2 linked regions of the Homo sapiens genome follow. The protein of the gene in region 1 interacts with the protein of each later gene in a pairwise test. Each region holds a gene or a part of one and is shown on either strand. Other genes may lie near its edges.

What was found. Proteins that work in one complex are often made in the same cells at the same time.
Region 2: the proteins of VPS9D1 (region 1) and SYT17 interact in binary tests that used the Homo sapiens proteins (3 or more experiments, as listed by UniProt).

The regions. Positions count from the first base shown.
Region 1 is NC_000016.10:89,710,740-89,714,582, forward strand, and holds part of VPS9D1 (VPS9 domain-containing protein 1), read right to left. Parts: intron 2,080-3,843; exon of another isoform or gene 1,978-2,079; coding exon 1,866-1,977; intron 1,784-1,865; coding exon 1,721-1,783; intron 1,484-1,720; exon of another isoform or gene 1,361-1,483; coding exon 1,308-1,360; exon of another isoform or gene 1,231-1,307; coding exon 1,143-1,230; exon of another isoform or gene 1,117-1,142; intron 674-1,116; coding exon 588-673; intron 272-587; coding exon 1-271.
Region 2 is NC_000016.10:19,181,740-19,185,239, reverse strand, and holds part of SYT17 (synaptotagmin-17), read right to left. Parts: intron 1,778-3,500; exon of another isoform or gene 1,713-1,777; coding exon 1,093-1,712; intron 1-1,092. UniProt on the Homo sapiens protein: Plays a role in dendrite formation by melanocytes.

The sequences.
Region 1 (3,843 bases):
GTCCCCCAGGGGTGAGGGAGACCCCACGGGGCCGGGTTGGAGTGGGGGCGTGGGGGGACTGTCCTGGGGCCGCGGGGCTGCGCTGGGCTCGGGCGGGGACAGCATGCAATGGAGGCTCTGCGAGGGCCGCAGCCGTCGGCTTCCGGGGTTGGGGGTCGGGGGGCAGCAGCCTGGGGCTGGCGCGGCTGCTCTGCTCACGGCGGGATACAGGGCGCTGTACACGGAGCACTGCAGCCGCCTCAGGAGCTGCGCGATCGGGTGGTCGGGGAGGCTGCGGGAGAAGAGGACGTGAGAACGCGGCCAGCCTCGGCCTCTCCGTGGCATCCACAGGTGCCGCGCTATGCCCGGTTTCAGAGAAGCGACTTGCATTACCTCCTGACAGTGAATGTTGGAAAGTCTGCCCCCCGCCCCCGCTGGGGAGGTTGGAGAAGCCGAGGAAACGCCCTCAGCGCAAAGGGAGCTGCAGTGTCCACGTGGCCGGGCACAGGCTCCCTGTGTCAGTCCAGCCCCTCTCCGGCACCTGGCACCAGGCAGAGGTGCCCAAGGCCGGTGCGCAGGGGCTCTGTGGGGCCTGAAGGCCCAGCTACCTGAGCAGGTGTGAGACCAGGCTGGTCACGAGTGACAGGTCCCCCGGATTCCTCTTGAGCTTGGCCTTCCAGTGCTTCGGCCAGTCCTACGGGACAGGGGGCCTTGAAGGAAAGCACGGTGGGTCCGCCACGACCGGACGCGCCTCATCTCCCACCAGTGCCGACCCCTAGAGACTGTGGGAGCCCGTCCTGGGGTGCAGGAGACCCAGCGCCAGCAGGCCCCGCGACCCGCCCCCGCCCCCACCCACACCCGAGGGAAACCTTAGGCGAACCCTGGGCCTGCACCCTCGCTGGGACCCTCCCTCCTCGCAGGGACCCTCCCTCCTCGCTGGGACCCTCCCACGCGACCCCTGACCTCGCCTCCTCGCTCTGCCCCGCCCCACGCAGCCCTGGCCCCGCCCCCTCACCGGGCCCTCCCACGGGCCTCTGGCCCCGCCCCCTCACTGCCCCCCACAGCCTCTGGCTCCGCCCCCCACGGGGGCCCACCCAGGCGGCTCTGACCCCGCCCCCCTCGCTGGGCTCCTCCTACAAAGCCTGGGCCCGTGGGGGACGCACATGGTCCTGTTCGTACTCCAGGATGGCGGCGTAAAGGGCCCGCTGCTCCCGTTCCTCCGGGGTCAGGGCGACTTGGCTGCAAAACCTCCTGGGGAGAAAGGCACGCGGTGGGTGCCGGGGCCAGGCCCTCCCCGCAGCGGCCCCAGGGGCGGGCAGGAGTCCCACCTGTTGGCGGCCTCCTGGAGCCGCAGCCGGCGCTCCTCCATCTTTCTCTGGAGCTGGGTGCAGAGTCAAGGGGCCGAGCGTGGGATCTGAGCGGGCCCTCGGTTCCCAACCCCGTCCCACACCCGGAGAGGCCGGGACGTCCCAGGGACCTCCTCTCGGTGAGGGGCTGTCCCCAGGTAAGGCTTCTGGGGCAGAAGGCAGCCTGCGCTCAAGCCAGGAGGGCCGGGCCAGAGAACATGGGGGACGGCGGCCGGGCCTTCCCCTGAGACCCTGCCTCTGCAAAGCGGGGAGCCCCTCGGCCCTGTACCCCGACCCCGGAACCTCCGCTCCCCTCGCTGCCCCCTTCTCTGCCCTTGGCTCAAGGCCACACTGAGTTTCCCCTCGGGGACCACCAGGGCGGTCAGAAAGGCTGCTGTCTCCTCCCGGGCTTTGGCAATCACTAGGTTCTCCATCATCTGCCGCTGTAGAGAGAGGGTCTGGGGGGGGAGGAGGGAGTAAGGCCGACTCCCCTCTGCCCCGCGCCCACGCACCCCCAGGCCCTCCCTAGCCCCCACTCACCAGGGATGTCTTCTGCATGGCCTGGCTGGGGTCTAGCCGCGCCATTCGGGCCTCATACGCAGCCTTCAGCTTCTGATTCTGCAGGGAGGCCTCCTCCAGTGGCGTCAGCTCTCTGGAAATGTGACAAGCTGCTGTCTAGACCCCAGGAAGCCCAGTGGTGTCTGGACACCAGAGGAGTCTCTCTCATCCTCCCGGATTGCTCTGAGGCCAGGAGGTGAGGAGAAAGAGGAGGGGAGCCATCTGGGGTGGGCTGCAACATCTGCCCCTTCTTGCCTGCCCTTCCAAAACACAGGTTTTGGCCAGGTGCAGTGGCTCCCGCCTCTAATGCCAGCACTTTAGGAGGCTAAGGCCGGGCGGATCACCTGAGGTCAGGAGTTCGAGACCAGCCTGGCCAACATGGTGAAACTCTGTCTCTACTAAAAATACAAAAATTAGCTGGGCATGGTGCACACTTGTAATCCCAGCTACTCGGGAGGCTGAGGCAGAATAGCTTGATCCCGGGAGGTGATGCAGTGAGCCGAGATCTGGCCACTGCACTCCAGCTGGGGTGATAGAGTGAGACTCTGTCTCAAAAAAACAAAACCAAAACAAAAAATAACAAAAAGAAAGAAAACACAGGTTTTGGTATTGCCAGGACTTTTGGTTTTTCTTTTTTTCTTTTTTTTTTTGAGACGGAGTCTCGCTCTGTCGCCCAGGCTGGAGCGCAGTGGCGCAATCTCGGCTCACTGCAAACTCCGCCTCCCGGGTTCATGCCATTCTCCTGCCTCAGCCTCCTGAGTAGCTGGGACTACAGGTGCCCGCCACTATGCCCGGCTAATTTTTTGTATTTTTAGTAGAGACGGGGTTTCACCGCATTAACCAGGATGGTCTTGATCTCCTGACCTCGTGATCCACCCGCCTCGGCCTCCCAAAGTACTGGGATTACAGGCGTGAGCTACCGCGCCCGGCCGGACTTTTGGTTTTTCAAGAGAAGCTGGACCACTGGACTTCTATGGAGATCCGTTATATGTGTTTGGCAACAGTATGAATCTTGTTAAAGCAAGCTTGTGCAACAATCCGAGGCTGTATGACTTCGAATGTGGCCCAACACAAATTCCTAAACTTTCTTAAAACATCACTGAGGGCTGGGCACGGTGGCTCACGCCTGTAATCCCAGCACTTTGGGAGGATGAGGCAGGCGGATAATGAGGTCAGGAGATTGAGACCATCCTGGCTAACATGGTGAAACCCCGTCTCTATTAAAAATACAAAAAATTAGCCGGGTGTGGTGGCATGTGCCTGTGCTCCAGCCTGGGTGATAGAGACTCTGTCTCAAAAAATCACTGAGGTTTTTTTGCAAAATTTTTTTTTTTGAGTCAGTCTCATTCTGTCGCCCAGGCTGGAGTGCAGTGACACAATCTCAACTCACTGCAACCTCCGCCTCCTGGGTTCAAGTGATTCTCCTGCCTCAGCCTCCCGAGTAGCTGGGATTACAGGCATGTGACACCACGCCCAGCTAATTTTTGTATTTTTTAGTAGAGATGGGGTTTCATCATGTTGGCCAGGCTGATCTCGAACTCCTGACCTCAGGTAATCTGCCCGCCTTGGCCTTCCAAAGTGCTGGGATTACAGGCGGGAGCCACTGCGCCCAGCCTTGCAATTTTTTTTTTTAAGCTCATCGGCTGTTGTTAGTGTTAGCGTATTTTATGTGTGGCCCAAGACAATTCTTCCAGTGTGGCCCAGGGAAGGCAAAAGATTGGACACCCCTGCTTTAAAGGCACTATGTGGGTCAAACAGCCAGATTAGTCTGTGACCCATGAAAGGAAGAAGTGTCCTGTCTCCTTTATACAGTTCCCAACAGCCACTCCACCTTGAAAGCTTTGTTCCCTCGTACCTTCCCACTGTCAGGGACAATGGAGGACAAGGAGGAAAGTCAGAGCCTGACGCCTGGCCACCCTGCCCTGAAGCCACATTGCAGAAACAAGGGGACTGGGAAGCC
Region 2 (3,500 bases), about 71 Mb from region 1:
CCCTGTTCCTACAACAGCCATCCCACAGGACAGGGAGAGAAGGAAGGGAAGAGGGGAGGAGGGGAGGGAGGAAGGAGGGGAAGGAGGGAGAAAGGGAGGGAAGAGGGTAGCAGGGAAGGAAGGGAGGGAGGGAGTGAAGAGAGAAGCGGGAAGGGAGGGAAGGAGGAAGGAGTGGCTGGGTCTTTTCCTTTCCTTGGGCTCCCCACATCCTTCTACCTACAATGGGTAGACAGTTACCCTCTAATATGCAGGAATGCACAACAGCCGACTGGAGACACAGCCTGGTCCGTGGGTGGCTTCCCGAGCAGCCAACCACATTTCCCTGGGCTGGACAGGGGGAAGGAAGCCAATCTAACAGTTGGCCTGAAAAACATCCATGCATCATCCTGTTTTCCAGCCTTCACTTTTTCCCCAAAAAAATCAATTTCTGAAAGTCAAAATGATTGATAGCTTTATACCCTGTGCAATCATTCTCCTTATTAAATAACTCAGCATCGATGATTTAAAAAAGGCTTCCAGAGTGGTGGTGGTTACAGGAATCTATACATGTGATAAATTTTCACAGAAAGACACACACATGAGTGATGCATGTAAAAAGTAGTGAAATCTTGAGGTCAGGAGATCGAGACCATCCTGGATAACACGGAAAACCTCATCTCTACTAAAAAAAAAAAAAATACAAAAAAATTAGCAGGGCGTGGTGGCGGGCGCCTATAGTCCCAGCTACTCAGGAGGCTGAGGCAGGAGAATGGCGTGAACCTGGGAGGTGGAGTTTGCAGTGAGCCAAGATCACGCCACGGCGCTCCAGCCTGGGTGACAGAGCGTCTCAAAAAAAAAAAAAAACTACTGAAATCTGAGTAAGCTCTAGGTTAGTTACCAACATCTATTTCCTGGTTGCGTAAGATGCTATCATGCTGGATCAAGAGGACACAGGAACTCTCTGCTATTTTTGCAACCTCTTGTGAGTCAAAAATTATTTCAAAATAAAAAGTTTTAAAAATCCAAAAAAGCCTTTTAAACAGTAAAATAAAATAAAAATAATCACTTTTTAAAAAAGCTCCCAGGAGGAAACACCACAAACCCATCCCTTACCTGAGAACTGGGAATCAGCGCCTTCCACCAGTGCCCGCCCTTGACCAGGTCAACTTCACACAAAGGCACAGAAACTTTCCCAATGACACAGTGGCGGGAGAACTTATCAAAATCCACCACGGTCAGGAGCAGGGTCCTCCTCTGGGCCTCCAGGAAGGGGATCTCGAAGGTGTAGCGCTCCTCAAACACGGGCTTCTGGGTCTTGCGTTTGACCCCGGTCTGCTTTGAGTTCTTCTGGTCTGGCAGGAGACAGATCTTGACGTAGGGGTTGGAGTGCGCCATGTCCTGGCGCGAGCCATCGTGGGAGATGGGAGGTGGCAGGTCCCTGGCCTCGATCACGCGCACGGTGAGGTGGTTGTGCAGCAGGTCGTACTGAGTGCTGAAGTGCAGCATGCCCAGCTGGTACTTGGACAGGATCTCCTCGTCTGTCAGAGAGTCCACATCGTCGCTGTTGGAGTCGAGGGAGTACAGGTGGGGTTCGAACTTCCTGAAATAGTCGTCGGGGTTATAGGTCCGTCTGAGCACCGAAGGTTGGATGGGCTCCTTCTTGGCGCTGAGAACGCCAAACTCGATGGGTTTAATATCGATGAGTGGAGAGCTGGGACGTCTTGACTCAAGACCTGAGAGCCACCAGAAATAACAATGAAGACAGCCACATACGGGGCAGACCTGGGCCACTTTGCAGGTAAGCAGATTCTTGCATTGTTTACTCTGCTTCAGAATGACCTTTGCCATCTTTCTCCACACTCTGAAATACTCACTGATTCTGTGACAGATAGTTTGGTGGCACTATTGACACCTTGCCATCATCACAGCAGCTAAGTGCCAGGCACTGCTCTAATGGACTGTGTACACTACATCATCGCATATGTGCAATCACAATCTTCACATCCCCTTGAATTATTAGATAATTACTATTATCCCCACTTTATAGACGAGGAAACAGAAGCTTTAAGTAACTTTCTGAAGGTCACACACTTGCAAGTGTAGGAGCCAGGGGTCAGGCTGGTCTAGCTGACCCCAGAGTCTGGCTCTAACCATTATCCTACGATGTCTCCACTTTAAGAGAGTGAGCTCTGGGACCAGAGTGCCTGGGTGGAATTCCATCTCAGCCACTTACTCACTACTCGTGTACTCATTACCAGTGAGCCATGTGACTCCGGGCATATTCTTTTGACTCTCTGGGACTCTGTTTTCCCATCAGTAAAATAGAGTCAATAACGGCACCTACCTCAAAGAATGTGGTGAAGATTCACTGAGCCAGGGCATGAAAAGAGCATGGCACAGAATGTGCCCGTAGGCACAGACCAATAAATGGGAACGACTGTACTTCTTCAAGGTTCATATTCAAACCTCACCGCTTACGGGCCGCCTCTCTCCCTTCCATGAACCAGCAGAATGCATTGATCCCAAGTTCATTATTCCAACCTTTGCACATCCCTCTCTTCTAGCAATGAGCTCATGGCATTCTTGCTAATTGCCCAAACAGTTGTCTTTATGAGACATTTGCCAGAGGCATGGGAGGTACTCTGATAGATGTATGCTAAATGGAGATAACCTGTGTTCAGAGCTGGGCATGAGACTTAGAAATTACCTAGGCCCACACTGTCCATAGAAAGATAACGCAAGCCAGAAATGCAAGCCACACATGTAACTTAAAATGTTCTGGCAGCCACGACTTTTAAAATATGCAAATAAAAGGGCAAAATTCATTTAATTTTATTTATTTATTTTGAGACAGAGTCTTGCTCTATCGTCCAGGCTGGAGTGCAGTGGCGGATCTCGGCTCACTGCAACCTCCACCTTCCAGGTGCAAGTGAATCTCATGGCTCAGCCTCTCAAGTAGCTGGGACTACAGTTGTATACCACCACACCTGGCCCATTTTTGCATTTTTAATAGAGATGGAATTTCATCATGTTGGCCAGGATGGTCTTGAACTCCTGGCCTCAAGCTATCTGCCTGCCTCGGCCTCCCAAAGTGCTGGGATTACAGGCGTGAGCCACCGCGCCCAGCCTGCAAAATTAATTTTAATATTTTATTTTATTTAACCCACTATATCCAATGTATACTCATTTCAACATGGAACCAATATAAAAATATTTTAGTGAGATACTTTAAATCCTCTCTCTCTTTTTTTTTTTTTTTTTGAGACAGAGTTTCATTTTTGTTGCCTGAGCTGGAGTGTAGTGGTGCAATCTCGGCTCACTGCAACCTCCACCTCCCGGGTTCAACCGATTCTCCTGCCTCAGCCTCCCAGGTAGCTGGGATTACAGGCATGCGCTACCATGCCCGTCTAATTTTGTATTTTTAGTAGAGATGGGGTTTCACCATGTTAGCCAGGCTGGTCTCGAAGTCCTGACCTCAGGTGATCCTCCCGCCTCGGCCTCCCAAAGTGCTGGGATTACAG